Linked DNA regions of Homo sapiens: regions 2, 3 and 4 are each linked to region 1. The links come from fine-mapping of genetic effects on gene expression. A gene starts in region 1. Each other region holds a variant in brackets. All regions are shown on one strand. Distances are between the middles of the regions.

What was found.
Region 2: its variant is fine-mapped to the expression of CACNA1I in whole blood (INTERVAL, PIP above 0.99).
Region 3: its variant is fine-mapped to the expression of CACNA1I in whole blood (TOPMed, PIP above 0.99). The same link has a PIP of 0.9 or more in blood mononuclear cells.
Region 4: its variant is fine-mapped to the expression of CACNA1I in whole blood (TOPMed, PIP above 0.99).

The regions. Positions count from the first base shown.
Region 1 is chr22:39,566,586-39,574,241 of GRCh38, forward strand. CACNA1I (calcium voltage-gated channel subunit alpha1 I) reads left to right here and starts at 4,168. Exons shown (of 37, transcript NM_021096.4): 1 at 4,168-4,403. The coding sequence starts at 4,168.
Region 2 is chr22:39,684,672-39,692,327 of GRCh38, forward strand. It overlaps CACNA1I (calcium voltage-gated channel subunit alpha1 I), which reads left to right. Exons shown (of 37, transcript NM_021096.4): 37 at 1,090-5,064. The coding sequence ends at 1,734. Among named protein-coding and RNA genes, the nearest start is that of CACNA1I, 120 kb to the left of the region's middle. The variant C/T (reference allele first, on the strand shown) is at 4,496.
Region 3 is chr22:39,655,339-39,662,994 of GRCh38, forward strand. It overlaps CACNA1I (calcium voltage-gated channel subunit alpha1 I), which reads left to right. Exons shown (of 37, transcript NM_021096.4): 11 at 2,814-2,965; 12 at 3,593-3,778; 13 at 4,095-4,212; 14 at 4,359-4,514; 15 at 5,006-5,099; 16 at 5,770-5,972; 17 at 6,627-7,097; 18 at 7,438-7,538. Among named protein-coding and RNA genes, the nearest start is that of CACNA1I, 88 kb to the left of the region's middle. RefSeq lists an enhancer at 552-1,053 and a silencer at 7,120-7,239. The variant T/C (reference allele first, on the strand shown) is at 3,513.
Region 4 is chr22:39,675,477-39,683,132 of GRCh38, forward strand. CACNA1I (calcium voltage-gated channel subunit alpha1 I) reads left to right here. Exons shown (of 37, transcript NM_021096.4): 30 at 1,865-1,943; 31 at 2,511-2,632; 32 at 3,631-3,969; 33 at 4,246-4,392; 34 at 5,454-5,576; 35 at 7,020-7,185. Among named protein-coding and RNA genes, the nearest start is that of CACNA1I, 110 kb to the left of the region's middle. The variant T/C (reference allele first, on the strand shown) is at 3,992.

The sequences.
Region 1 (7,656 bases):
CTCCTGACCTCAGATGATCTACTCGCATCGGCCTCCCAAAATGCTGGGATTACAGGCGTGAGATACCACACCTGGCAGCCCATCATGTTGCTTCTTAACAAGAGCCTGCTGAAGCAGGCTGGAGGAGGGCTGAGCTTTACAGAGAAAAACTGAGGCTCTAAGAAGCTGACGGAGTCAGGAATGGGGGTCTGTGTTCCAGACACAGCAGGCTTCTGCTCCTATCCCTGCTCTTGGAGGCCAGCCTAATTGCCACACTGCTGCTTGGTGGGCTACTCAGGGGAAGGAGCATCAGGGTTAGGTCCTGGGAGCACCTAGAAGAAGGGGACTCAGGGATGTGGAGGCAGCTCAGACTCTGGCACCTGATGGACCTGAGTTTGAATCCACCAATGCTGTCACCTAAAGCAAGTCCTTTAGTCTCTGTGACTGCGGACAGATTGGAGCCCAGGGAGGCCCAGCTGCCAGTCCCCTCAGGGCTTCCAGCCATGGGCACACAGGCACCTGCGATAGGAGCTAGGCCACAGACACAGGAAAGAGAGATATCTGGACTGGACTTGGGGGCTTTGGGAGTGGGGAGTGGGTCAGGGAGTAGTGGCCTGGGAAGCTGCTAAGGAACAGGTCAGAGGGAGATGGTCTGGGTGGTCACTGGGAACAGGTCAGAGGGTGGAGGCTGGGTGGTCACTGGAAGCATGTCCGAGGGTGGAGGCTGGGTGGTCACTGGAACAGGTCAGAGGGTGGAGGCTGGGTGGCCGCTGGGAGCAGGTCAGAGGGTGGAGGCTGGGTGGACACTGGGGAGAGAGTTGAGGGTGGTGGCCTTAGGGGTGTGGTTTCTGGGAGCACCACAGTGAGGGGAGAGGTGTGAGCACAGAGGGCAGCACAGTGTGGCGGCATTAAACAAGCCAAGAGAGGCAACAAGCAAGTCAGTGCAAGCGACGTAGCCCAGAGGCAGGAAGTGGGTAGTTTTGTGCAGTCCCGGAGGCCGGGGGAGCTCTTTCCACCTGTGTGGTTTCAGGAAGGACTTCGGTAATGCTGGGGCGAGGGTTGCAGGTGGGCCACTGCAGTTGCTGCGAGACCAGGTGCTTTACCTCGAGAATAAATCTCAATCCACCGCCTTCTCCCTGTCTTCACCAGCAGCCAAGGGCAGGCCAGCCCAGCTCCTCCCAGCCCTTCCTGCTCCACCCCTTCCCCTTCATCCACTCTCCCTTCAGCCCCTGGAGAGATGGCTTAGAAACAGACCAGAGCACACCACTCCCCTGCCTAAAACCCACCTGTGGCTTCTACTGAACTTGGGATAAAACCCACGCTCCTCTGTGTTCTCCCCCAGGGCCCTGCTGAACTCTTTGGTTTCATCCGCCTCCCTGCCCGAGGCTCGGCCTCGCTTGTGTTCCTTAAATGCACCGAGCGGGCCCCATTCTCCTGGCCTTCGCACGTGCTCTTCCTCCTGTGCTCTTCCAGCAGATCAGTCAGGGCTGCGGCCTCCCGCGTCTTGGTTTTCACTTAAACATCTCTTCCTTTAGAGAGGGCAAGATGATTGTCTCCACTCCCACCTTTCCCCTTGTTTATTTACTTCCCAGCACTTTTTATTCACTGAGTCAACAAATATCGATTGAGCACCTAGTATGCTCCAGGCACCATTCCAGGTGCTGGGGATACAGCAGTGAGGGGATACACCTCCCTTACAGGCTTCTCTTAGGCTGGGGAGACAGACACCAAATCATGGAGATATAAAGACATAAATTATGCACCGTGTTTGATGGTGATAAGAGTTGTGGAAAAGCAGAAAGAGAGAAATTAATTGATCGGTGTGTCTCTCTCCTCTGCGGAAGTGTGGGCTGAATGGGGGCTGGTGCTGAGTCTGGCTCGTGCCCCAGCATAGCCCGAAGCCCACACAGTGCCCACACATAGTAGGTGCTCATTGGGCAAATGAATGAATCAGTAGGGCCTGGGAGAACAGGGCCTGGGCGGAAGGAGAAGGTGCCCCAGTGAGAGGGAAGAGCGGGAGCAGGGCCTAGGACCTGAGGAGGTCCAATCTGGCCAGAGCAAATGGCCAGGGGAGGGAGTGGTGGGCTCCGAGGCTGGCACGGTGGTGGGCAGAGCTGGAACCACCCTAGGGAGGGTGCGTTTCAGCCCAGGAGGTTGACACGTGGCAGGCCAAGGTGCCTGGGAGCTTATGTAAGGCCCGTGGCTGTTTTTCTGGAATCAAGAGCAAAGCCCTGAGCTCAGGAGAAAACTCCGCCTCCCTGACCAGCCAGGGGAAGTGGCAGGAGGTGCCAACCCCTGCCCGTTGCCCCCGGGAGCCAGAGAAATGTCCAAATGCATCAGCTCCGGGTGGCTTGGTCGACAGCCCAGCAGCAGCTGGGTGGGCACCAGGGACGTGGACCCCATCTCTCAATCCCACGGCTCAGACTGGCCCTGTAGGGGTTCTAGGATCCCAGGGACCCCAGTGGACAAAGTTTTAGGGACTAGTACCCTTTGGGGTGAGGTGGTGAGGGGCAGGCCCTGGGAGTGGCTGTCCGTCCCATCTTGCCATTGACTGGTTGCGGAGGCTCTCGGCCAGCGAGGGCACCATCAGTTGTCATGAAGCCCGCCTGGGGGTCTGGTGCTGGGATTCTGGCCTCTCAACACCACCTAGTGCTTCACTTGGCTGGGTGCATAGCCTTGACAACCCGCTTTGTTCTCTTGGCCTCAGTTTCTTCACCTGCCAAATGGGCATAATAGTCCTCCTGAGGTTGTTGTGAGCATCAGACAAGGCCAGGGAGTAGAAGTGCTTTGAGTTGGAGTCGGAGCCAGCAAGATGATTTGCATCACCTAGAACAAAATGAAAATGTGGGACCTCTTGATAAGCAATTAAGAATTTCATGTTGGTGACAGAAGAATTCTAAAGCAAGTTCAGGGCCCTTCTGAGCACGGGGCCCTGTGCAGCTGCCTGAGCCACAGACCCAGGAAGCGGGCTCTGACCGGAATTCTTTTTTTTTTTTTTTTTTGGTGACAGAGTCTTGCTCTGTTGCCCAGGCTGGAATGCAGTGGTGTGATCTTGGCTCACTGCAACCTCCACCTCCCGGGTTCAAGTGATTCTCATGCCTCAGCTTCCCGAGTAGCTGAGATTACAGCGTGTGCCACCACACCCAGCTAATTTTTGTATTTTTAGTACAGATGAGGTCTCACTATGTTGGCCAGGTTGGCCTCAAACTCCTGACCTCAGGTGATCCACCCACCTTGGCCTCCCAAAGTGCTGGGATTACAGGTGTGAGTCACGTGCCTGGCCTTTGACTGGAATTCTATTTCTGCTGTTACTCTGCTACATGTCTGTCCTGTCCCTTCTCTGGGCCTCGGTTTCTTCATCTGTAAGGCAAGGAGGTTAGACTCTAAGATTCCTGGGTTCTCAGCCTTGTAAGGCAGTGGCTGGGAGGTCCCTGGGTCAAGGGCTCAGCTGTAGGTCTCAGCTCAGGGGTTACTTCCTCAGGGAAGCCAACTGTGATTCCCTCCTGGCTTGCCAGCGTTCCCCCAGTCTCTGATTCTGCAGCACCCCAACATTGCCTTTGTAACCTGCATTGTCCTGGCAATAATGTCTGTCTTTACAATCACCTCTTTTTTCTTGCAAGTTTTCTTTACCTTTGATGGTGCAATAAATACATAGCTCTAGTCTTGTAAAAAAGTTAAGATCCCTTCCTTCCTTCCTTCCTTCCTTCCTTCCTTCCTTCCTTTCTTCCCTCCCTCCCTCCCTCTCTCCCTCTCTCCCTCCCTTCCGTCTTTCTTTTCTGTCTATAATTACTTAAACATTTTTTCTCTTAAATAATGAAAGATTTCAAATACAGAAAATTGCCAATAGACAAAAAAAAAAGAGTTAATATCACAATTATATTCTAAGAAGGCTTTATTCTCCCCACTATCTTCGTTTGCCAAAACTGAGGCTCAGCCAGGGTGAGCAGACTTGCCCCATGATCACCCAGCTTGGAAGCAGATTCCAAGTTGGGTGCAGCTGGGCCCTCAGCTGTTTCGTAATCCTCATGCAAGAGTGAGGGTGAGGGGCCTGTGGGGCTCAGGTGGGGCTGTCAGAGCTGCATCCGTCCACTTATTGGTGGAGAGGCAGGTTGGGGAGCATGTACCAGGCCTGTCCCCACCACGTGCCACCCTCTCTGTCTTCCCCAGGGCTCCCAGCTCAGTGTGGACATGGCTGAGAGCGCCTCCCCGCCCTCCTCATCTGCAGCAGCCCCAGCCGCTGAGCCAGGAGTCACCACGGAGCAGCCCGGACCCCGGAGCCCCCCATCCTCCCCGCCAGGCCTGGAGGAGCCTCTGGATGGAGCTGATCCTCATGTCCCACACCCAGACCTGGCGCCTATTGCCTTCTTCTGCCTGCGACAGACCACCAGCCCCCGGAACTGGTGCATCAAGATGGTGTGCAACCCATATCCTCCGCAGCCTCGGCTGATCGGGGCCCTGCAGGGGCTGAAGGGTGGGGGGCTGGATTGAGTCCTGCTGCTCACACCTTGCTCCGGCTGGGAGACCTGAGGTCTGCGGTGAGGCCACTGGGCCTTGGTGGTGGTGAGCGAGCTCAGAGGGTGGGTCTGGGGAGACCTCAAATGGATGAGGACCTGGTGTTCTGCTGATGTGAAGGTTCTGGAAGTTGCTGGTGGCTGTGGGGTCAGTCCAGTGGCTGGCTGGCTCAGAAAGTCCTTGAGTGTGGGCCCCAGACCTGTGCTGGGCTGGGAATGCAGATCAGTCAGACTCTGGAGCCACCTGATGGGCCGTGACCATACAGAGGATGGGAGCCGTGATCAGGAACTGTGGGCGTGGGCAGCGGGGCAGCCGATCCCAACACACAGGGCAGGACTCATTCTCCTTACTGTGCCTCCGAGCAGCCTCTTCCCAGGCCTCCTGCCTCCACTTGCTGCCTCCAGTGGGCTCATGTTCCCCCTGCTTAAGACTGTCATGATTTGCTATGGTCCTGGAGGTGCAGAGCAAAGTCCTAATCCAACCCATCAGGGCCTGTGTGTTCCACCCAGCCTCACTTCCCACCACTTGGCTTCCCCCCTGTGCTCTTCTGAGCCTCAGGGTCCTCTCACTGGCTCTTCCCCCTGTCTGAAAAGCTTTTCCCTTCCCCCTGGACCTGGCCAAATCCTTTGCTACATCCTTAAAATCCCAGCTTAAGCATCACCTCCTCAGGGAAGCCCTCTGGGATTCCTCCTCTGCTTCATATCTAACTGTCACATCTAACTGTGGAATTCTGAATCTAACATTTGCCTCCCCTGGGGTACTGTCAGATGACTGGGATGGGGACCCTAGCACCTGGCACAGTGCTTGGCACATCGTGGGTGCTCTGGCAGTGTTTGCTGGGTGTACATGGGCAATGCCAGAGCTGACTCCTCAATAAGGAAGAGCGTTGGTTGGGTAGAGAGGGTAGTGGGAGGCAGGAGGAGGGCATGGCAGGAGCGAAGCCTGGAGAAGGGAGGAGTTGCAGGCAGTGTTGGAGCCCTGAGGGGCAGAGAGGAGTGAGGTGAGGCTGCAGGTGTGGCGGGAGCCCTGCAGGGCCTTGGAGGCTGCATGAGGGATGGGACTGTGCTCCAAGGGCAGGATTTGAAGCAGGGTCTGGAGAGATCTGTGCTCTGGAAGGACTGTGTGGCACTGGCTTGCAGGGTGAAGTGGGGGCTGGGGACCACTGAGGAGGAGGCTTGGGGACCCAAGCCATGGTGGCCTTGTGGTTTGAGGGTCCCACCAAAAAATGCCCATATGTGGCTCGAGGTTCTGGTGCTTGTGGCCACACAGGGCAGGGTGCGGGGAGCTGGTGGGTCAGGTGCAGGCCTGAGTCCTGCCCTGGAATCCAGGGATGCCAGATGCAGGCTGGGATGTTGAGACTGGCTGCAGGACTGCCAGGCTTCCCTTCTGTAGGGGGCTGAGGTGATCGTGGGCCCTGGATCCCCCTAACTTTTGGAAACCAGCGGGTCTCTGCTGGAGTGGGATGCAGAACTGGGTGTTCCTTGCTGGGTGGGGGCTAAGAGCCTCCCTGCTCCTTCTGGGGGACGGCTCACAGCGTCTCAGGCTTGGTGAGAGGGTCTGCTCGGTAATTAGTTCACCCAGCACTCACTGACATCTGCCCTGGGACACTGAGGACAAAGAGGCAGAGCTGGTGTCTGTCCCAGGGAGTGCCCGGGGAAGAGGGAAGCAGGGACCACCCATTTGGCTAGTTTTTTTTTTTAGATGGAGTCTCGCTCTGTCACCCAGGCTGGAGTGCAGTGGCGCGATCTCGGCTCACTGCAACCTCCGCCTCCCAGGTTCAAGCAATTCTCCTGCCTCAGCCTCCCGAGTAGCTGGGACTACAGGCACCCACCGCCATGCCCTACTAATTTTTGTATTTTTAGTAGAGATGGGGTTTCACCATGTTGGTCAGGCTGGTCTCGAACTCCTGACTCGTGAACCGCCTGCCTCGGCCTCCCAAAGTGCTGGGATTACAGGTGTGAGCCACTGTGCCCAGCCTACGTGGCTAGTTTTAATACAAAGCACTGGGGAAACCTCAGGGGCTTGTGGCATGTGAACAGAGGAGTGCCAGGCCTGAGAAGGGGGCGGCCGCAGGAATTTTGGGCCTTTAGGAAGAGAAAGGCTGGTAGGAGGACCAGGGGGACAATTTCACAATGTCTCAGGGGCCTTTCCTGGGTGAGATGACAAGAGTTGATTCTGGCTCTGTCACTTGGGTGCTGTGTGACCATGAGTAAGTCACTTTGCTTCTTTGAACCTTAGGGGGTCTGGATGGGCAATACTGCTCTGGGCTGGAGGCAGGGGCATGGCTCAGAGGACTTGGCCTGGGAGTCTGACCCAGCTGCGTCTCTGATGGGCTCTGGCTGGGCTGGCTGGGGTGCTGCCCACGTGTCACGGAGAGGCCCCTAGATGGGGGTGGTCAAGTCCTGTCTGCCATGTGTGTGACCCTGGGCAGTCTCCTCTCTCTGAGCCTCAGCACCTCCACCTAAAAAGGAGACGGCAGACGAATCACCCCTTCCAGCCCTGGGAGCCCAGGGTGTTAGCCACACACGCCATGGGGGCTGCCTTGATCTCAGGCACCCTGACGCCTGACCACTGAGTGAGCCAGCCCCTGGGAACCCACCCAGTTTTCCATATTTCTGGCCTGTTGGGCAAACAGAGTCCTTGGGGCCACTGTCTCCTTGGTTTTCACCACCCCTCTCACCTCCATCCTCAGGTCATGTGGGTTGTGGCCTGGGGTTGGAGACAACAGTGGGGCTGGCCCAGGAGGGAGAGGAGTACTGGTTTCGGGAGGAGCTGGGCCTGCCTCTTGTCTGTCTTGGAGAGAGCCCTGGGTCCAAGGGGTGGGGCAGAAAGCAGCCCCCCTCCATCAGGAGGGACTTTTCAGTCCCGGGAGCTGCGCAGAGCGAGGGTTCCCCCGGCATCCCCATGGCCAGGGCTGCTGAGGCTGGACTGGGATAGAGGTGGTTCAGGTCTCGGCCTTAACTGGTGGGATACGGACTCTCTTCAGGCCAGAGATGTGGCGACTCAAAAGCACAGCAACTTTAAAGGTGTCAGCTCTGGGACACTCAGACTGAAAACTTCTGCGACAGTCTAAGGGTTCAAAGTTAAGATTTAAGGCTCAGCGACACTGAAATTCTAAGCTTCTGTCATTCAAAGGCTGCAAAATTCTGTGTTTCAAAGAGTGTG
Region 2 (7,656 bases), 120 kb after region 1:
GGCACTGGGGCGGATGGAGTGGGCGGGGCTGGGTCCTGGGGACAGCAGAGTGTGGGGAGGACCCCAAGGCGGGTCTGGAAGAGGCCTGTGATCCCTAGCTTGAGGGGAGGGGAGGAGAGGAGGAGGAGTACTGGAGGTTTTGCAGGGTGGCGGGGTGCTGGCAGTGGGGAGGACACCCTGGGTGCTCTGGGTGGGTGTGAGTGGGGGCTTGATTACTAGGAATGGAGGTGGGAGGGCGGGTCTGGTGGATGAGAAGCCTCGGGCTGCAGGGTCCCCCGTACTGGATTGGCCAGGGCCACAGCCCTCCTACCCACGGGCACACAGAGGTCTGAAGCACTGAGGGCTCCGCTGTGGGGGTGGGGAAATGGGGCCGGGCCGGCTCCCACAGTGAGTGCAGTTGATTCACTGGGTGACTGTCTGACCCGTCACACCAGGCTGTGTGCTCTGGCGGGCAGGACACAAACTCCCTGCCTGCCGGGCTCACTGTTTAGTGCTGAGAGTGAGCTGCCTGGGTGCAGGAGGGATGATAACCAAAATAAATGTCTGCAGAGTAAAGTCTACTCCATGGTGGACAGGCAGGGAGAACAGCTCCTGGGGAGGGGCTGCAGGTGGGGGGCCCCGGGGTTGGGAGGTGGGGGGCTCTGGGGCTGGGAGGTGGGGGGCCCACGGGGCCGGGAGGTGGGGGCCAGGGGCCGGAGCAAGTGGGAGGGACCGGAACCAGTGGGAGCAGCCAAGGCTGGGGCCGCGTCAGACCATGGGGGGTGCGGTGGGGGTGCCACGTGCCCTGGGGGAGGGCGGTGGGCCCAGGGCTTCCCCTTGGAGTGAGCCTGGAGCCTTCTGTGACGGGCAGGGCCGGGTCTGACCTGGGTTTGAGGCGGATGCTAGCTCCTCTCGGGGGACCTCTCGGGGCAGGTGAAGGCCCTGCGGTGACGCCGCCTAAGCTGGACGTGCGGAGGGGAGAAGCCCTGCTCCGAAGGGAGCTCCTTGGATGGGGTCTGCCTGCTGCCTGCTGTGCGGGGGAGGGCGGCGTCCAGGTTGCTGGGGTGGGGGCCGACACAGGCGGCCTCCACGGCTCCCACCTCCCCCCAGGCCACCGGGAGCGACACGTCGCTGGACGCCAGCCCCAGCAGCTCCGCGGGCAGCCTGCAGACCACGCTCGAGGACAGCCTGACCCTGAGCGACAGCCCCCGGCGTGCCCTGGGGCCGCCCGCGCCTGCTCCAGGACCCCGGGCCGGCCTGTCCCCCGCCGCTCGCCGCCGCCTGAGCCTGCGCGGCCGGGGCCTCTTCAGCCTGCGGGGGCTGCGGGCGCATCAGCGCAGCCACAGCAGCGGGGGCTCCACCAGCCCGGGCTGCACCCACCACGACTCCATGGACCCCTCGGACGAGGAGGGCCGCGGTGGCGCGGGCGGCGGGGGCGCGGGCAGCGAGCACTCGGAGACCCTCAGCAGCCTCTCGCTCACCTCCCTCTTCTGCCCGCCGCCCCCGCCGCCAGCCCCCGGCCTCACGCCCGCCAGGAAGTTCAGCAGCACCAGCAGCCTGGCCGCCCCCGGCCGCCCCCACGCCGCCGCCCTGGCCCACGGCCTGGCCCGGAGCCCCTCGTGGGCCGCGGACCGCAGCAAGGACCCCCCCGGCCGGGCACCGCTGCCCATGGGCCTGGGCCCCTTGGCGCCCCCGCCGCAACCGCTCCCCGGAGAGCTGGAGCCGGGAGACGCCGCCAGCAAGAGGAAGAGATGAGGGTCGCAGGGGCCCCCGGCCGCCCACCGCCCGCCCCGTCTCACCTTCTTTACCTCAGGAGCCAGGAGCAGACAGCAATACTTCGTCCACACCTGGGATCGCGCAGGGCCCGCAGGGCACAGGCGCCCGACAGCCGGGCTGAGCGGAGTCTGGGTTAGCCAGGCCTGCGTGGCCCATGGTGGCCCTTCCAGTGCATATACATACATATATATATATATATGCATATATATATATATATATATATATATGTGTATACACACACACATAGACAGACATATATATATATATTTATTTTTTTTACTGAGAGCTTATGACTTCCAGAAAGTGCTAAAGGTGGGAGGTGGGCCAGGGCCTGGACGGGGCTTTTGTCTGATGCTCTGGGATTCTGGCCAGACCCACCCCAGGGCACATGTCCTGCGGGGGCGTCCCAGCTGTGTTTTTTGATGTCTCCTCCCTGGTTAAGAGTAGCTTGGAGAGGACCCTCAGGCCTCTGAGGGCACCAGGCCCTGGAGAAGAGGTGCAATTCAGGGTGTGTGTGTGTTTTTTTTCCTTTAAAGAAGAAACGCTGCTAAGATCCCACGTGGCTCCCACGTGTCGGGGTGTCTGTCCTGTCATCCTGACTGTCTCGTTATTGTGAAGTCTTTCGTAGACACCCCAGAGCACACACATCCCCTTAGTCCACCGGTTAGATGTCTCTCTTTAGAAAAATCAGGGGTGAGTAGCTGTGTTTCCTTAGGCCTGGGGTAGGGGATGGAGAGCAGCTCCAAGGCTGAGCTGGGGCTCTGGCCCCAGGTGAGGTCCCCAGCTCCTGAGCACTTCTGAGGGGGTGGGTTCCACCCCCAGGAGGGCGGGGGTGGGTGGAGCAGGAGTGGAGGCAGCCTGCAGAGGAAGGGTGCGGGAGACTGAGCCGGCAGTGGCTTGCTTGGAGGGGCTAGGGTACCCGCCTGGTCTCGGCTGGCTCCAGCTGCCCTGCAGGTGCCCCTGGGCTCAGGTAGTTAGTTGTTCAGCCACTAATGCCTTTTATCCCCCATATGGGCGCTGAGCTGTGGCTGTTCCTGGACACTGTGCTGTCCCCGTCCTGAGCAACTATGCCCCCGCCCCAGTAGGTTCAAGGCAAAGCAGCTCTGACCGAATTCTAGGCAGGGGTGGGGGCACCTGCCTGGGCCCTGGGTCCAGCCGCATCCCCATGCCCAGCCTTTCGCGTCACCTGGAGGCCACATCTTCCCACCCCACCTGCCAGCCCCTGTCTCTCCTCCCCGCTGCCCCTAACTGCAGCTCAGCTTTCACTATAGCAGTGCTTCCCAAACGGGTTCTAGACTTGGGTGTTTGATTTGAAGAGTTACGCATTTATTTCACTATTTATTGGGAAAAAAATGCATTGAACCCGTGATTTCACAGACATTTTGCTTAGGTCAAGGCTACTTTTTAAAAAGGGAGTGACTTTCATGAAGTCAGTTTGAAGAAGGAGGTTGGGAGCATGTTGGTGGCAGTGATCTGGAGAGGCTGCAGGGGCCACGAGTTTGCAGATGCTGTACTTCAGCAATAACCTTGCCTTTGCTAAGACCCCCTCCGAGGGCTTCAGGGGGGCCTGCCAAGGGGGGGCCTTGTTCTTGTTCCCAAACTCTGACTTGGAAGAACTCAGCTTGTGGCCGGGCTGGTGAGGGTGTGGGGTGCGCCCTTCCCTTTTGGGCTGAGGGAGAGGGGGCCGGGAGGGGTTGTCAAGCCCACCCGGGAAACTGAGCCCTGGAGAGGGGAAGCAGCCAGCCCAGGATGCTTCAGGGCCCTGGCAGCAAAGAAGCTGGGGTGGTGTGGAGGGCCCTACTCCACACCCTAGAGCTGTGATGCTGAGCAAGGTGCCTGTGGCGGAAGGAACTGCCCAGTCCTCCCTGGGGGCAGGTAGACCTGTGGGGATGGCTCGGTCCAAGCCCAACACTGCCCGCTCCAGAGAGCCTCAGCCCTGCCTCCCTTTCCACAGAGGTGGTTTTATGTGGAACGAGGTACCTTGTCTGGGGAAGAAGTGGAGCTGGGCAGGCTTGACTGCTCCTGGCTGACCCTGAGCTCTCGCAGTTGGAGGGAAGCAGACAGACTTGACTTTTTGCAAGTCCGCGTGTTGCTGGAGGGACACGTGTATTGGAGCCCAGAAGAGGGGCTGTGTGGCCTGGGAATACCATGTGGAAGGTTGGGCTTCAAGTTAACAGGATCAGACACCAGTCAAGCAGCCTCAGGTCATCTTGCGACTCCACTGAGCAGCCTTTCCTGTTGTCACATGGGTTCAGAGCAGCTGAGCAGGGAACACGTCCTAGGCAGGTCTGACGTGAAACCTCCCCTTACCCTGAACCGTGTGACTCTGCAAGCAGACACCTCGAGGCAGGTGTTCTAGGCAAAGGGATGGGCATGAGCGAAGGCTCCAGGGTCCACAGAGCAGGGAGTGTGGAGAAGGTGGAAGAGCTGAGCTCAGAGGCAGAGAAGCTCCTTGCAGGGAGCACTGGGAGATGGCCTGGCCCGTCCCAGGCTCCTGGAGGCCCCACCTGCCGATCCCAGGCACTTGACCTTGTTCCTGTGGGTGACAGAGATGAGAACCAGGGAAGCTGTGATCCACTGGCCAGGACAAGTCAACATGGGTGAGGGTTGGGCAAAGGGCCCTTCCTTCCTCCCCAACCCTGTGGTCTGGGGCCATGGCCTCAGGCTTGTGTCTATCACAAAAGCACAAACTTGCCCTAACCCACATGGGCCTGGCTGTGGGGAAAGTGGGGACCCAGGT[C/T]CCTGAGCTGTCTGCTGGGCTCCGTAGAGCGGTGGTGGGCAGGCACCTTGGCATCTGTGCAGAGACGGCCCAGTCTGGCCAAATCCTCTTCCTCTCCCCTGCTCTACCTTCTCCGGCACCAGGCAGCCCCTTAAAGGAGGACAAAGTGTGTAAAGCCCGTCTGCTGTCTTCCCCCAAATCCTCAGCTCAGAGCCTTCCGCTTCCAGGGCCAACCCCAGCCCCGTTTGCTGCGTTGTGTAAGGGCTTGGGGTCTTAGAAGCTGCTCTTTAGCCCAGATACACATACTCTTTTTTGTCTTTGTGCAATAATCAGTGTTCCTGGCAGAGCCTGGGCCAAGCTGCAGCCTACTGAGGAGGCAGAGGCCACCTCCTCCAGAAAGCCCTCGGCCTGGGCCGCCGCCGTGACTCTAGCACTCTCAGTCGCTGTACAGTTTCTATGGTGTGAATGAACTTCCCTCCTAGTTGCTGATGGCGCTGGTACCTGCTGGCCCATGGCCCGGGTGTAGAGAAACCAAGCGGCAGCCACCACCAGTGTTGTTTTGAATAAAAGCCCAGAAGCCTATTTAAGAATTTCTCCGTGTGTCTCTGCTGTTCTTTCCCCAGCGGGGTGGGTGTCAAGCTGAGGCTTCTCTCAAGGGAGGGGTGGCAGTGTCTCCTCCCCCATTTTCAGGCATGGGGCCTGGGGCGTCGGGGACCTAGAACAATGCTCATGGCAGGGTGCTCTCATGGCCGCTGGGTGGCTGGGGGCCTGTGGAGCTGGGGAGGAGGCAGGCCTGGTTCCCATACTCTGCTGCTGTGGCTGAGTTGCTGGACCCGGGCGAGAGGGTCACGTGGGAAGAATAATCTGTTCACCGTTTGGCACTGTCTATTTCTTTTTCTTTCTTTTTTTTTTTTTTGAGACGGAGTCTCGCTCTGTTGCCCAGGCTCGAGTGCAGTGGCAAGATCTCAGCTCACTGCAAGGATCAAGCGATTCTCCCGCTTCAGCCTCCTGAGTAGCTGGGATTACAGGCGCCTGCTATCATGCCTGGCTAAGTTTTGTATTTTTAGTAGAGACAGGGTTTTGCCACATTGGCCAGCTGGTCTCGAACTCTTGACCTCAGGTGATCCACCCGCCTCGGGTGCTGGGATTACAGGCATGAACCACCATGCCCAGCCTGCACTGTTTCTTGAGTAAGTCCCCATCAGATTGCGCTGACCCAAGGACAGGGACTGTGTTTACTCCTCCCACCCGGAGCCTGGTGCAGGTTGAGATTCAGCAAATGTCAGCTCCGTGGCTGTGTTTTGGAAGCAGAAGGGATTTCAAAGACCAACTAACACCTTATCTTATTTTTCCACTTGAGGAAACAGGCCTGGAATGGCAGCAGGGTGTGGTCTGGGCCACACAGCGAGGCAGAGGCTAGGGGTGACGGGCACCTGCATGCCACCTCCACAGCCAGAGGCTCGGCCCCTGGGGAGGAGAACCCTGATTTGTCATCCTCTCTCTTCCCCGTTAATAATGGGATTAAAAGCAAGTTGCTGCCAAGGAGAGAGACTGGCTTTAAAAAAAAAAAATAACACAAGAACATTTTAAGAGAATGAAAAACTTCAGCCATCAGCACTTTTTATTTAGACCCGAATTCATGAATTTTAACCAAATAAACACAGGCATGTTAGGTATTAATATATGTAAGATTATGCAAAACCACTATTATGGCTATAATGAAAATTAGATTCTGACTCTTGTTGTGCTCCAGGAGGGAGGCATCCTCCGGTTTCTAGCGCAGTGACCTCCGATTGCTGTCACCATGGTAACAGGCTGCCGTGGGAATCTGTGGAGGAGGAGGCTGGTCCTGTCGGGAGGGGTGGGGGTAGGGCCAGGCCGGGCTGGTGCGGATCTGCCGGCCCACATCTGCACAGAGCTAGGGGCGTTTCGTCCCCTGGGCAGAGGCCAGCCTGAGCCTCAGAGGAGAGGGGGCCGGTCATCAGCAGGAGGGGAATGGTGGGGCAGAAACAGCAGTTGCACGGGGCCCCGCCCCACTCACCCTCATCTTCCTGTTCCCCTCAGGCTGCCCCTCCAGGGAGGCATCTGTGTCATCTTCAGTAAATCATGGCTGCACACCCACGCGCGCCCAGCCTCTGCTAGGTGCTGGGGACACAGTGGTGATGGGTCCCTGTGCTCACGGAGCCCGCACCTCAGAGTGGGAGAAAGATTCCAGACAGACAGGCACACAGCTGGGCCGTTTCAGAGCCTGCAAGTGCCAAGAAGGCAGCAGAGCCGGTGGAGTGACCGTGACCGGGGCTGGGGGTGGGGGTCTTCCTGGCTGGGTGGTCCGGGAGGACTGGCTGGGGATTCCTGAAGAACCAGAGGGGAGAGCCTTGCTGAGGCAGTGACCACCGGCTTTCCAGATGAGAGGCAGGAGTCTCAGAGGGCAGCGTCCAGATGAGACCCAGGGCACCTGGCTACATGAGAACATTGAACACGCCAGGAACACGTTTACAGTGTGAACAGGTCCCATGCGGTATTTGGGACATAGTCACACTAAAAAGTTATTTGTTGCTTATCTGAAATTCAGATTTAACTGACTGTCCTTATTCTTCTTTGTGAAGTTGGCAAGCCTGTCAGAGAGTGGGGGGTGACTTCCCTGGGCCATGAGGGGCCGTGCCCTGCCTGATCGCCTGCCCGGCACCCCTGCCCGATGGCCTGCCTGGCACCCCTGCCCTGTCCTCCTGGGATGCTGCTTTTGGGTTGCCCGCCCACTTTGCCCCTTCAATCCCTTCTCACTGGGAGCCTGGTGAAGGAGAAACACCAGCTGACCCCACCTCTGCAGCTCAGTTCAGTGGTTCCATGGCTCCCGGGACCTGCCCGATGCCTGCAGGGCTCTGGGCGTTCCAGTCCTCACCCACTGCCCAGCGTGGCTTCATGGACCAGCCATGCTGACCTGCCCTGCTCTGCCCTTCTCCCACCTCTGCTGGGCTCTTCACCCTTCAAGCCCCCACTTAGGCGTCACTGTCTCGAGAAACTTCCCTGTCACTCCAGGCTGTTCCCACCCTCTGACTCTCAGCTCCTCCCTGAAAAAAATTAGCCTTTTAAGAAACTGTGGTGAAGTATACACAAATGACGTAAAATTTACCATTTTAATTCTTATTAAGTGTAGAGTTCAGTGGCATTAGGAATGTTCCTAG
Region 3 (7,656 bases), 89 kb after region 1:
CAAACCCGCATCAGGCAGGGACTTGCAGGCTCCCACTGCTGCCCCCTACCTCCTGCCTCTGGCTGAACTTGGTGTTTTCAGCCCTTCAGCATGTCTGCCTTCACTGGGTGGTCTTTGCCACCTCCAGCGAGCTTTCTGCCATCTGTCTGTCTGTCCTGCTGTCTGTCTGCCTGCTCTTTTTGTGTCTCTTTCTGGCCGTACCTATGGTTCCCATGGTGTCACTGCTTCGTTGTCCTGGTCCTTCTTCACATCCGTGTCCCTGCTTTCCTGTCTCCATGTCTCCATCTCTCCATGCCCCACCTTTGCCCCTCACTCCCTTGTCTCTATCTGTCTGTCTGTCTGTCTCTGCCCATCTCCGCCCCTCCCTCTCCATGTCCCCTCCTCCTTGGGCTCCCACTTGCTGTGTCTATATTCGTCTGTGTGTCTCTGTCCCGGAGAAATGCTTTCATGAGTGATGGATGGTCCATTAGAAAAAGATTAACAGGTGTGCTGAATGGAGGAACATCTGTTGTGAGGGAGGAGGAGGCGCGGGGTGACCTTTTGGATGGCAGTGGCTCCCTGCATCCCTGGTAGGAGTGTGTGCGTGGCGCGCGCGGCTGGAGCCAGCTGATCATCATCACGGAGTGTCAGCGCCTACAGCTTTCATCTCCGCGGACATCGCTTACTGGGCTGGCAAATTGCTGGCTCTGAGCAGCATCTGGACCCTGGCTCAGTCCTCCCCACCGAGGGTCCCTCTCAGGGTCCTACTCCTCTTTTGGGACGACTTCTTGAGTCAGATGTAATTACAGATGGAAATGGGCCTTCTCCTTTCATCTGGGCTTGAGAGGAGCTGGCAGTTTTATTAGCTTTCCCAGGCATCAGGCTGGAAGCTGGCGCTTGGGTTGTTATTTTTTTTTTCCATCCTCCTTTTAACCCACATGGAGTCGGAGTCAGGTCCTTGCGGCTCCCCGTTGCTGATGGAGGGGCTCCTGCTCTCGGTCCTCTGCTCTCCCACCTCCCAGCCAGCTGGGTCCTCCACCTGCACACCCTTCTCTGCTCCCTGGCGCCAGCTCTCTCTTAGCTTTTAGGTCTCTGCTGAGATGTCGCTGCCTCCTGACCCCACTAGCACCGCTCCCCTAGCCACCCCCCACTTTCCTGGCGTCAGCACACACTGGCTTGGTTTGTTAACTTGGTTTACTGGGCTTTGGCCCCAGAGCACGAGCTTCTCAAAGGCAGGGACGGTGCCCTGACTCCCTCACCACTGCCCACCCTGGTAGCTCGAGCCCAGCACATCATGTCATTCAAATTTGTGGTAGCCATGCAGGAATGAATGAATGAATGAATGAATGAATGAATTTGGCTGCAGTCCCCATGTGGTGTAACGGGAGAGCAGTTTGGAGTCCAGCTTGGTTCAGTGCCCTGCCTTTGCCCTGCCACATCCTTGCTAGGTGGCTCTGAACAAGTCATTCCCCCTCCCAGTTTCCCTAGCCTCAGTCTCCTCATCTGTAAAACGGAGAGGCTAACTTGTGTTGGGCGTCAAATCAGGTCTCAACGACAGTGCTTCCTTTCTCTGTGATTCAGGCAGGGATGACCTGGCACCACAGTGAGCACACACCAGACACTTCATCAGTCCCAGGGGAGCCGTGGCAGGGAGAGAAGGGGCTGGGCCTCGTAGGAGCCTTAGAGGAGAGGCTTGGATGAATTGGTTCCTCACTCGACCCCGTGGTTTTATGGATAAGGAAACTAAACTCCAGAGGAGGGGGGAAGCAACTTTCCCAGGACCACACAGCCACTTAATGTCCAAACCAAACCCGGACCCCTCCAACTTCCCCCACTGCCCCCAGTCGTGGCCTCTAGTGTGGCCTGCTTTGAACACTGGGGTTCTTTGAACAATGCCATTTGCAGGATATCAGTTAAAAACCAGGGGTAAACAGCTCTGGGAGCAGAGGGAGGCTCCACAGCTGTTGGGGGAGGGAGCTAGTCTCCCTCTGACCAACTAGTGGCTTTGGGCAGGTCCTCTAACCTCCCTGGGTCTGAATGTCCTCCTCCGAGAGCTGCTGGGAGTGCTAAGAGCCACCACGGGTGCTCTGTGTGCAGGACTGTGCCTGGCATGCAGCAGGTACATTGTGTCCACCGTCCTTTCATGGGGCACGATGTCCCCAGCCACCCTTGGTCCTGAGACGGCCATTGCTGGGAAGGGGAGAGAAAAGTTCTGCATGGGCGGGGGTTAAGGGCAGGAGTCTTGGAGCCAGGCTGCCTGGGTTCAAATCCTGGCCACACCACTTGTTAGCTCTGTGGCCTCAGGCAAGGGACTGGCGTCCTGTGAACCCGTGTCCTTGCCTGTCTGCAGACGGGTTCTTGTGAGGGGCTAAGTGAAGTGATGGCTGTAAAATGCATAGAACGGTTCCCGGCACGTGGTAAGTGCTCACTAAATGGGTTAGTGACGTCTAGCGACGCCTGTCCTGCTTTCCTGTCTTGCTCTGCATCTTAGCCGTGTGACCTCAGGCTGGCCTCCAAGCCTCTTTTTCCTCATCCGTAAAATGCGTATCAGAACACTTCCCTGGTAGTGTGCTACAAGCCTCATTTCCAAATTTGTGGAAGGTCAGCGCTGTGGGGTCCCCCAACCCTCACCATCTCAGCAGACCTCTCACGACCCCAAGGTAGCAGAGTTGAGAGGGGCCCTCGGGGCCTTGTGCATGGGGCAGTGGGGAGACGGAGGTATGGTGAGGACACCGACCTGCCAGGGTCACACAGCCAGGGTGGGTGTCCAGAGGGGATCCACAGCTGCCCTCTGGCCTGACCGGGTCTCCATTCCCCACCCCAATGCCCCACAGCCGGAGGAGCTGACCAACATCCTGGAGATCTGCAATGTGGTCTTCACCAGCATGTTTGCCCTGGAGATGATCCTGAAGCTGGCTGCATTTGGGCTCTTCGACTACCTGCGTAACCCCTACAACATCTTCGACAGCATCATTGTCATCATCAGGTACCCCTCCCCCAACCCACCCGGCAGCAGAGTGCCTCGGGGGGACATTTACTGCAAAGACCCCAGCCAGCATATAAAGGACATAAGATGGCTGTGGAAACCCGTTGCACTGAAACAATTATCGAAATAGTCAAACATTTGTGATTTAGCAACATATTTCTGTCAAGTTAAACAGCATGATCTAGCAGCGCGTCTGTGACTGCTATCATTCCGAGGAAGGGATGGGCATAAATCATATTGGGAAACAACTGCATCGGCTGTCACGTGACGTGAAGACACCAGTTACTTTGATTGCCACAAAGCCATAGGTACTGCTAATTCTCTGTGGCTTCCTGTTTACATTCATAACCAAAAGACACGTTAAATCTCAAAAAGAGGACAGTGATATCCATGGACCTCCGGATTCTAGCCAGAGACTTCTTGTGGGGGTGGTGGTGGTCCATGGACTCCAAGTGAAGAGCCCCTGATTAGCTTGTGGCGTGGAGCAGCATCCAACATATTTGTCAGATGGATGGATGAATGGAAGCTCTGTCTCTCTGTTTTCCCT[T/C]CTCCCTCTGTCTTCCTCTCCCCCTGGCCTCCTACTGCTGCCTCCTACCTGTACCCTGGGCCTGCCCTGCGGGACCGCAGCATCTGGGAGATTGTGGGGCAGGCGGACGGTGGGCTGTCGGTGCTGCGGACCTTCCGGCTGCTGCGCGTGCTGAAACTGGTGCGCTTCATGCCTGCCCTGCGGCGCCAGCTCGTGGTGCTCATGAAGACCATGGACAACGTGGCCACCTTCTGCATGCTGCTCATGCTCTTCATCTTCATCTTCAGGTGAGCCTGCCCTGCTGGGGGCCATACCTCAGCACCTGCTGGGGCTGTGGGCGGGAGCCTGGGGGATGTGGTCCACTGTGCTTCTCTGGACAAAGCCACCTGGACCTGGGTGTGAAGCCTGACACTGTTCCTCAGTCCCCTGTGGCTTTCAGCAAGCATGAACCCCTAAGCCTCAGTGTTCATCTCTGTAAAATGGGACCAACGCTGCCCCGCCTCCCCCTGCCCTGCATTTTACTGAGTTGACTGAGAATGAAACAAGGTGAGTAGGCAGTTTGGTGCATGTGAGTCCGATGAGCCTCTTCCATCCTTTCCCCAGCATCCTTGGGATGCATATTTTTGGCTGCAAGTTCAGCCTCCGCACGGACACTGGAGACACGGTGCCCGACAGGAAGAACTTCGACTCCCTGCTGTGGGCCATCGTCACTGTGTTCCAGGTGAGTGGCCGCTGCGTGTTCATGTTTGCTGGGGAAGCGATGGGACAGTAGGCCTGGGAGGGGCGGGGCTGACAACTCCCATGCCTCCTTGTAGAGCCTAGCCCTGGACTAGGGGTACCCCAGGGCTAACTGTGTCTCCCCAACAGATCCTCACCCAGGAGGACTGGAACGTCGTTCTCTACAATGGCATGGCCTCCACTTCTCCCTGGGCCTCCCTCTACTTTGTCGCCCTCATGACCTTCGGCAACTATGTGCTCTTCAACCTGCTGGTGGCCATCCTGGTGGAGGGCTTCCAGGCGGAGGTGACTGTGGTCTTGGCAGAGGAAGCACCCCCACAGGGTCTGCGAAAGACTGGGCGAGGGAGAGGTGGCCTGGATGGGGGAGGGCTGCAATTCAAACTTCTAGCAGGCAACCTATCCCTAAAGGAGGGGGTTGCTGATGAGGTGGTGAGCTCTTCATCATAGGAAGCATGCAAATGGAGACTGCGTCTGCCATCCCTGCTCCCCCCCAGGGATGTAGGACTAGGCTTCTCCATCTCTGAGATTCGAAATCCCCCAAGATTAGGGACTCTGGGCCCTGCTCCCTCCGTTCTCTGAGGCTCTGGGGATACTTGCAGTCAGGCAGATGTAGGGTTGTGACCTAGGTTCTTGTTAGCATCTCATTTCCCTTTTCCAAACCTCAGTTTTCCCATTTGCAAAATGGCGGTGGAAACACCCATAGAAAAATTCTAGAGGGAGCTGGGAAGGGAGGAGCTGGACTGACCTGCATTCTAACGTGACGGATGCTCTCCCAGGGTGACGCCAATCGCTCCTACTCGGACGAGGACCAGAGCTCATCCAACATAGAAGAGTTTGATAAGCTCCAGGAAGGCCTGGACAGCAGCGGAGGTAAACAGGCCCTCGCTTGTCACCTAGAGAGCCCAGAGCCTTCTCCACAGATCCAGGTGGGCAGAGGGTACAGCGTCTGACTCCACCTCAAGCCCAGGCTCAGGGACTGCTACTTATCTATGGTTTGTTGTTTACGTTCATAATTGGAAAAAATGTGAAATCTCAAAAAGAGGTCAGTGACATCCATGGACCCCTGGGATTCTAGGCACAGGGGTAGCCGCAGCCCACCACATCCCTCCACATACCAGGGCCCCTTGGTTAGAGCCTTGGGGCCTTAGGTCAAGGTGTAGGTTCTGGTCCTGCCTGGCACTACTGGGCATCTTGGAACAAGCATCCTCCAACCCTAGCCCAGTGTCTTTCTCGGTAACTGGGGCGGACAGTCCCTGCCTTGTTTCCCATAGTGGGCATGGGAGTGAGGTGTCAGGCTGGTTCTGAGCACAGAAGGCAAGGGGTCCACACATACCTAAATAAAGCTAAGAGCCCTGCAGGTGGGGCGAAGGGGAGGCACTGTGATGGGGTGCAACCAGGAAGACTTCCTGGTAGAGGAAGCCTCCTTAGAAAAGCTCTCCATTTCTGCTCCTTCCTTGTTTGTCTGTCTCGTGGCTCCCTTGCTGTTGTTCTGTCCTGTCTGCCATCTGTCCCTCCCTCTGTCTCCATCTCACTCCTCCAGATCCCAAGCTCTGCCCAATCCCCATGACCCCCAATGGGCACCTGGACCCCAGTCTCCCACTGGGTGGGCACCTAGGTCCTGCTGGGGCTGCGGGACCTGCCCCCCGACTCTCACTGCAGCCGGACCCCATGCTGGTGGCCCTGGGCTCCCGAAAGAGCAGTGTCATGTCTCTAGGGAGGATGAGCTATGACCAGCGCTCCCTGGTGAGTCCTTGTGGGGAGCTCTGGACGGGCGCTTCCTGCTGGGGTGTGTGTGGAGGGGCCCTGAAGAGAGGTACCTGCCAGTCTAGCCTCAGACTCTGGTGCCCAGCCAAAGTCAGGCAGGGGCCATGTCTGTTGCATTCCTGGGTGCCCAGTGCCAGAGTGGGACCTGGCAATAAGGAACGAATGAAGGCCTAGTGCCAGTGGGGTCTGGTGCAGAGAATTGGATTTTCATCTCAGCAACAATGTGTAGGGTAAAAAGAGCTGGGCTTTGGAGTCAGGCAGACTGCAGCTTGAATCCACCTTCTGCCACTTCCAAGCTGTGTGACCAGGAGCAAATTACTGCCCTTCTCTGAGCCTCAGTTTCCTTACCTGCAAAATGGGAAGATGGCCCTAACTTGCTGTACCTTCCTCAAGGGAAGTGAGGTGGCAGGAGGGGATGTAACCTCCGGGTGGATGTGCCCCCATGTCCCTGTGGATGTGGATGGAGTGAGGTGGGACAGGGAGAGGAGCTCTAGGGTCAAGCCCATTCCATCACCCGCTGGCCAGGTGGGTGGTCTTAGAGCCACAGCGGGGGTGCAGGCTGCCTTTGGGCACCTGGTGCCCCAGCCGTGGGTGTGCCTGTGGGGCGCTGACCCGAACGGGAACTCCTTCCAGTCCAGCTCCCGGAGCTCCTACTACGGGCCATGGGGCCGCAGCGCGGCCTGGGCCAGCCGTCGCTCCAGCTGGAACAGCCTCAAGCACAAGCCGCCGTCGGCGGAGCATGAGTCCCTGCTCTCTGCGGAGCGCGGCGGCGGCGCCCGGGTCTGCGAGGTTGCCGCGGACGAGGGGCCGCCGCGGGCCGCACCCCTGCACACCCCACACGCCCACCACATTCATCACGGGCCCCATCTGGCGCACCGCCACCGCCACCACCGCCGGACGCTGTCCCTCGACAACAGGGACTCGGTGGACCTGGCCGAGCTGGTGCCCGCGGTGGGCGCCCACCCCCGGGCCGCCTGGAGGGCGGCAGGCCCGGCCCCCGGGCATGAGGACTGCAATGGCAGGATGCCCAGCATCGCCAAAGACGTCTTCACCAAGATGGGCGACCGCGGGGATCGCGGGGAGGATGAGGAGGAAATCGACTACGTGAGTGGGGGCGGGGCCGAAGGGGACCTGGTGCGGTGGGATAGGACAGAAGTGGGTGCGGCCCCAGGAGGCGGGGCCCGAGCGGGCGGGCCCACGGGGGGCGTGGCCGGGGCGTGGCCGGAGCGGCTAGGGCTTCAGGTGTGAGGCAGGAGGGGTGGGGCCAGAACTGCCCACACCTGAGCTGGGCCGGCTCCTGGGAGAGAAGCCCTCCCTGGCTGCCCCCGGGGGGCAGAGAGTTCGGAGGTGACCCTGCGACCCCAGTTGGCGCGATGGCCGCATGGGCGGAGACCGGCAACCCTGCGCATCGCTGACCCCCGGCGCTCCGTCCTCCTCTTGCTAGACCCTGTGCTTCCGCGTCCGCAAGATGATCGACGTCTATAAGCCCGACTGGTGCGAGGTCCGCGAAGACTGGTCTGTCTACCTCTTCTCTCCCGAGAACAGGTGGGCAGGGCCAGGCCTGGGGTGAGGGTTAGAGTAGGGGTAACGTGGGAGGGACGGATCTCTGCCAAGCCAGGCAAGGCCATTGGTGGCGCTCTCCCAGACCACAGCGGACCCTCCC
Region 4 (7,656 bases), 110 kb after region 1:
CCCAGCCTCCAGCAGGAGACCCAAGGTAGTCATTACAAGTGCATTAGCACTTGAGAAGAAGCACGTGCCAAGTGCCACTGGCCGTGAAATGGTGCTTACCCCTCAAAATCCATTTGCTGTTGCTCATGTTGTTGTATGGACATTGGCCATTTCCTCGATTCTACGTAAAGTGCTAGGAAAATGAAACTTCAGCCTCTTCCCACCAGTCTCTGCCCCAAGAAGAGGGAGGAGGCATCAGAGAAGGCTTCTCAGGGGAGGTGACCCATGGACTGGGCTTTGAGGGGTGGGGAGGAGGCATTTTACAGGCAAAGATAGAGGGTCCTCCCTGCAGAGGGAAAATAATATGCCAAGGCACTGTGGGGCTGTTTTCTGTGTGGCTGGAGTGTGTGGGATTGGAAGATCAGGCTGGGAGGGGGGTCCCTGGGGGCCAGGTCACAGCACACCTTCAGTGCTAGGGCAGCAGAATTGGGCTTTATCTTGCAGGCAGCAGGTGCCACAGGAGGGTTCTAGACAAGGAAGGCTGCAGCCGAGCTGCCTTTGAGAAGGTGGCTCTGCTGGCTGGGAGGAGAATGGATTGGAGGGAGAGGCTGGAGGCAGGGAAGCTGGTGAGGAGGCTGCTGCAACCCTGCCGGCTCTGAGATGCTGACAGCAGGGAGGGGACAGATAGAAAAGCTGACGGCAATCCTGGTTAAGAGATGCTGCCCCCGCCGGCCTGTGCAGGGCACAAAGCTGAATTCCTAGAGCCGCGACCACGCCAGATCCTTCTCAGCGGTCAGGGCCTTACAGTTGGCCTCACGGGTGCTCAGTAAGTGCTTGTTTTATTAATGAAGGGAACATCATTTAATTAGTCAGACACTAGCAGTGTAGAACGGCTGGCCAGGAAACCCTGCTCTGGAGTGGAGCGGAGAAACTCGAGGAGTGGTGATTAATGGGGTTTACTTTTCAGCAGTTAACGTGAACGTTTTCTGAGGGTTCTAAGGCCTTCTGAGGGTTCTAAGAGATATTTCATTTCTAGGGCAAGAATGTGTTTTAGCCTTATCTTATCCATAGCATGAGTTAAAGGTGGTCTCCAATGCATGGATAGATTTGAACTAGGTTTGGAATCTGGGACGCTTTCTCCCACAGGAGCTGTGGGATGGGGGTGGCTGGGTTTGCAGAGGCTTCTGGGGCCCACGGGCCTGCGTGATTCCTGCCTTCCCTCCTCTCTATGGCCAGGCCTCATGCTGGCCCAAGGAGGCAAATCTGACCTCATGCAGCTGTGTTCCTGCTCTTGAAGATTTCCCAGACCAGCAGATGACAGTGACAGGGATAAGTGCATTTCGGTGGTTTCGTAGAGGAGCTAGTGTTAGAGCTGAGACCTCCTGCCTTCTCCCTTCCCTTCGTTCATCCATCCATTCAACCTTGGTAGCCACTCAAGGCGTGTAGCATAGATTGTGTGCATGGACCCTGGGGCCAGCCTGCTGGGTTTGGACCCTTGTCCTACCAGTTACTAGCTGTGCGACTCTGGACAAGTGATGTCACCTCTCAGTCTGTCTCCTTCTTCTTCTGAAGAATGGGGATAAAAGATAGTTCGTGGATTATTGTGAGGAGGAAGTGAGCTCATGAACCTTAAGTGCTGGAAATGGGACAGCTTGTGGTAAAGGTGGCACAAGTGTTTTCTTGTTATTCTGAGCCCTGTGCTGGACCCAGCCTGCCCTCCAGGTCCTGTAGGGGTGGCAGACGTGGACACACAGCCTGGGGGAATGTTACAGCTGCTCTGACCCACAGGCTGCCCAACCCCACTGCCCCAGCCTCCACCCTTCCCAGGCCTGGTGCGCCCCCACCCGCTCCCCAGCCCCACCCGGCCTCACCTGTCCTCCCGCAGGTGGGCAACCTGGGCCTCCTCTTCATGCTGCTCTTCTTCATCTATGCTGCTCTCGGGGTGGAGCTCTTTGGGAAGCTGGGTGAGTGACTCCCAGAGCAGGCCCGTGGTGGGGGTGCAGCAGGGCTGCAGGAGGAACTGGGGGGGCGGGGGAGGCCTGAGACCCCTGAGCCCGTCACATCAGGGTCTTTGTATTGGGGAGATGCCTACAGCAGGGCCCTCAGCTGTCTGGTCTCCCAGGAAAACTGCCCTCCCTACCCCGGTGTTGGTGCCTGTCCTGAGCCAGCGCCACCCCAGCAAGTGGAGAGGCCAGGGCAGGGGAAAGAGCAACAGAGCGCTCGCTGAGCTCCGCCCTGCACCGGGATGGCTCCAGAAAGCAGGGTTCCCCGAGGGGCTGGCCCTCACCCCATTTCACCCTCTTTCTCAGAAACCCATTCTTCGGCGGGGAGCAGAGCCAGACTCACCCAAACCTGAGCCCCAGCTCATGTGCCATCTCCCCGAGCCTCAGTTTATCTGTGGGCTGGGCACAGTCTGCAGGCCCCTCCTAGGGTGTGATGAGGGTTCTGAGGCGAGGCGGGAGGCACCAGGTCAGGGTGAGCCCCGCAGGCACTCCGCCATCGGGCAGGGCTGACCTCCTCCCCGCTTCCAGTCTGCAACGACGAGAACCCGTGCGAGGGCATGAGCCGGCATGCCACCTTCGAGAACTTCGGCATGGCCTTCCTCACACTCTTCCAGGTCTCCACGGGTGACAACTGGAACGGGATCATGAAGGTACTCCTGGGCGGGCTGGGGTGGAGAAATCAGCCAGGTGCTGGGACAGTGAGGATGCTGGTCCTGCTGCTCAGGGCTCTGCCCACCCAGGGCCCCACCACACATGGGAGGGGCATGCAGGGCACGGAGGAGTGGAGGGGCCTGCCCAGGACCAGCACAGTGGGGAGAGCTGAGCCAGAACAGGCCCCCTGTCTACACTGCCTCATCCCCCAGTGTTGCCTGGGATCAGGGCTCAGATTCTAGGGTAGACAACTCCACCCAGTTCCGGAGGGGACCTGGGGCCCAGGCAGGCCTGAAGGCCAGGGCCAGGCCCCCTAGTGATTTCCACGCTGACCAGGTCACCCGGCAGAGGCTCCCTGGCCTGGGCTGCAACCCGGGCTGGGCTGGGAAGGGCAGGGAGGGGCTCCCAGAGGACAGGGGTAAGGCCTCGGTTCCGGGGCCCTAGGGTGGAGAGGGCAGAGGTAGGCCTGTTCTGCCTCCCACCCCCACCCTGCAGAGCCCCCAGTGCCCCCAGCAAGGGGGCAGGAAGCCAGGGTGCTGGGAGAGGCGGCCAATCTCCTCAGCCCAGGGCGGGAAGGTGATGGAGTCTTCTTGGGCTTTGTGGTTGGGGGTTGAGCTGAAAAACCAGAAAGGAAGGACAGGGAGGCCCTGGTCACGAATGCACCCTACTCCCCAGGGGCCCCTGAAGGAAGCCCCAGATGCCCCTTCTCAGGCCTGACTGTCCCGGGGAAGCAGGCCAGCTGTGGGGAGGGTGACATGGGCAGGAGCAAGAGAGGAGGAGAGGGCGCTGGGCCATCCGTCTGTCCATGCGGGGACTTAGCTGAAGCTGAGGCAGGCAGATGCCGCAACAAGGCAGAGTGGGGCAGGGCAGCCCGGGGCCATCTCGGGGGTTGAATCTCGGTCTTGCTGCCTCCGAGCGTGGCCCTGGGCTGGCCTCTGCCTCCAGCAGCCTCTGGGATGTCTCCGTCCTCATCCTCACCGCCCTCCCTGCCACGCAGGACACGCTGCGGGACTGCACCCACGACGAGCGCAGCTGCCTGAGCAGCCTGCAGTTTGTGTCGCCGCTGTACTTCGTGAGCTTCGTGCTCACCGCGCAGTTCGTGCTCATCAACGTGGTGGTGGCTGTGCTCATGAAGCACCTGGACGACAGCAACAAGGAGGCGCAGGAGGACGCCGAGATGGATGCCGAGCTCGAGCTGGAGATGGCCCATGGCCTGGGCCCTGGCCCGAGGCTGCCTACCGGCTCCCCGGGCGCCCCTGGCCGAGGGCCGGGAGGGGCGGGCGGCGGGGGCGACACCGAGGGCGGCTTGTGCCGGCGCTGCTACTCGCCTGCCCAGGTGGGCAGGGGCTGGAGAGGTG[T/C]GAGGGTCGCCAGAGGGGGGGCACCGCAGGGCCAGATGGGCAGCAGGGCCAGGGAGGCCTTGCACAGAGACCTCTGTCTTTCTGGGCCCCACCCTGCTCAGCTCCATAGAAGGGGTGACCCTGTGATGAGGGGGTCGGTCCCAGGCCATGGGCGCAGAGAACCAACCGGGAGGGCAGCTGTGTCCTGCCCACCCCACAGCCCCGGGACCCGGCTGATAATCCCGCCTGTCCCCACCCCGTCCCCGTCCGCCTAGGAGAACCTGTGGCTGGACAGCGTCTCTTTAATCATCAAGGACTCCTTGGAGGGGGAGCTGACCATCATCGACAACCTGTCGGGCTCCATCTTCCACCACTACTCCTCGCCTGCCGGCTGCAAGAAGTGTCACCACGACAAGCAAGAGGTAATGGCAGCCCGGGAGGCCTGGCCCCTTGTGGCAGGGGCAGCACGAAACCTGGTGGGGGGCCTGTCCGAGGGCAGAGCCTGGCTCTGGGCTGTAGAGACCAGGCTGGGTCAACGTGGGCACACGTAGCTTCCATGGCTGGGGCAGATTGGCTCCCTGAGTCAGGGCCAGGTGTGGGCCTGTGGTGTGGTGGCCACAGCTGCCGACCCCAGCACCATGCCGCACACAGTAGGTGCTTGGGTAGGGCAGCTGCCCCACCTTGTGTGCTGCAGGTGCCAGGCAGGGAGCCTGTGTGTCACTTGCAGGACAGCTTGCCCTTTCTGTGACATGAGGGGTCATCTGCCCGCTCTTCCCCCAAGGCATCATCCTGGCACTCAACCTCCTCCAGGTGCCCTGTCCTGGCCTCCACCTCAGGGCTTAGGCCCACCCAGCTCAGGGGTTCCCATGGGCCTGCCTCCAGAGCAGGCGCAGTTAGCCCCCTCCCCTCTCCCCAGCAGTGTGGGCCCCTGAGCTCTCCCTGGGGTGTTCCAGCCCCCAGAGTGGCCCCAGCCTCAGGTGGCTGCAGGGCAGGTCCCCAGGAACCATCAGCAGGAGCTGGAGGACTGGGCTGCCCCACATCCCTGCCCTGTGGTGGCTGCAGATTCTCCGGTGTCTCTGGGCCCCGCAGTGTCCCCTGCCTGTGACACGCTGTGCAGGTCATCCACATGGGGCCATAGATGAGTCAAGTCCAGCCCAGTCTTGACGGGCACTTGGTCTGGGGGCAAGCAGACAGCTGTGGAGTTCACAGCCCACGGCAACTCACCTGCCCTCAGGTCCAGGTAGCAAGATGGGCCACTCAGAGCTGGCTTCCACTGGAGGTGGCCACTGTGTCACCATCGCATGTCACCCAGGCTGGGCCCCTGCACAGGATGGACACATCATCCGTGTCCAGCAGGTGTCTGGACCTTTCTGACCACTGCTCGGCCTCTCTTCAGAGCCTCAGGCCTGTGGCTGCACGCCCCAGGACCCAGGTCTGCCCATCCCAAACCTGGGTGACCCGAGGCCACCCCCTCTTCCTGCAGGTGCAGCTGGCTGAGACGGAGGCCTTCTCCCTGAACTCAGACAGGTCCTCGTCCATCCTGCTGGGTGACGACCTGAGTCTCGAGGACCCCACAGCCTGCCCACCTGGCCGCAAAGACAGCAAGGTCAGCTCCCCTGGGGACTCCTGAGCAGGCGGGTCTGTCCTTGAAACCTGGCCCCTGCCCACCCAGGCAGGACCCCCCTGTCTTTCCAGTCTACCATGTAAACGGCACCCACTGTGCTAGGCCTTCATCTCCTGTTGGACAGATGAGGGCAGTAGGGCTCAGAGAGGTGGAGTGATTTGCCTGAGGTCACACAGCCACAAGCCCAGCCAGCACTCCAACCCGGCACCCAGCAGTACTGGCTGCTTCTTGTTGCTTTGAGTATTTTCTGGTCCATTCCACGGGGGGTCATCCCTGGCCGGCGGGGCTGTGAGGCTGAAGCGAACGGGGGAGTCATGTCAGGCACAAGCACCTGCTATGTGCGGGGGCGGTCGCGTCAGGCACAAGCACCTACTATGTGCAGGCGCTCTGCCCGTGCCACCTGTTTGTCTGCCGCACGGCTCTGTGCAGCAGGGATGATTTGTTCCCACTTCACATGTGAGGAAATGGTTCCAAGAAGTGGGGCGATGCTCACATCACACAGCCAGGAATGACAGAGCAGGAAGCCACCCCAGGGGGTCAGTCTGAGGAGGCCTGCAGGCCAGGAGGGGGCTCTTGCTGATCCTGCAGTCTTAGGGGGTGAGATCTCAAGACCTGGGCTCCTGATCTCAAGGTCAAGGTGGTCCTGCCCTGCTGGGGGTGGGGGGTGTAAGGGACAGCTGGGGGATACCCTGGGCTTGGTACCTCTGCCCCCTAGGCTGGCCCTCCATCAGCTCAGAGTAGGCTGTGGGGCCAGTTCCTCCTGTCCCTTCCATGTCATTTTGGTCCCCTCCCTGATTGGTAACAGTTGCTGCAGCTCCCCGCACCCCTACACTGCTCTCCTACAAAGGATATCAGGATGCACAGTTTCTGGGACTCAGCTGGACTTGGGCAGGGTGCAGTCTTTTGTGCCAGACTCAGCAAGTCATTGGAGGTCGGGGTGGCACGAGTTCATCTGCCTTGGAGGGGGCATTAAGGCGGCTCTTCTGGGAAGGGGTCACTCTGGGCTGCAGGGCTGAGGAATGTGGGGGCCAGGGAATGCCTAGGAAGGTAGGCGTTACTCTCCTTGGATGCAGAAACAGGCTCAGCAAAGGGAAGGGACCCACCCAAGGTCATGCTCATGGGACACTCGTGTGGCCACTCAGCCTGTCTTCTGATGCCTTCGCCAGCCTTGACCTGGCTTCTTCGCTGGGCCAGGGTCTGTACCAGGGGAAGTCACTAACTGCCTGGGGCATCCAGTGGGCATTCGGAGGTGGATTCCTTTCACGGGATTTTGGAAGATGGTCAGGTAGAGGAGGTGAGAGGAAGGTCAGACTAGACATGAGGGTAGCCTAGTTAAGCAAGGGGCCGTGGAGCAGGTCATGAGGTACCCTTCATGAGCTGTCCCCCTTCCCAGTCCTGCCCCATCCTACCTCCCTTTCCTTGCAGGGTGAGCTGGACCCACCTGAGCCCATGCGTGTGGGAGACCTGGGCGAATGCTTCTTCCCCTTGTCCTCTACGGCCGTCTCGCCGGATCCAGAGAACTTCCTGTGTGAGATGGAGGAGATCCCATTCAACCCTGTCCGGTCCTGGCTGAAACATGACAGCAGTCAAGGTGAGGGGTGGGAGCCCTGCCAGCTCCCCACAGCCCTCATCTTGGGCATCTGCTTCAGAGGGAGATGGCTGAGTTTTTTCCTTAGTATTTTTACCCAGATTATTATATTTAGTCCAGAAAGAACCAGATGGATATCTGACAATGAGAGATAGACTCTCAGGCCTGATATAACAATGATAAAAGATCAAGAGCCAAATAGTACAAAAAGATGAGGTAATTATAACAAAAACCTAAGCATCTAAAGGAAGCTTCATGCTGAGCTTCCTAGGAGCCATGGTGAAAAGGGAAAGAGGTGGGTACACACGGCTCTCATCAAGCAGAAGGAAAGCTGCCAGATTATTGTGGTGTTTTTCTAGAGCTGAATTTGAGAGGTGTGTAGCCCACAGATCTTCATATACACGGGGATGTTAAACATAGGAAAGCCTGGTGTCTTCAATAGCCGTTTTGTGAATTCCTGATACTTATCCTTCA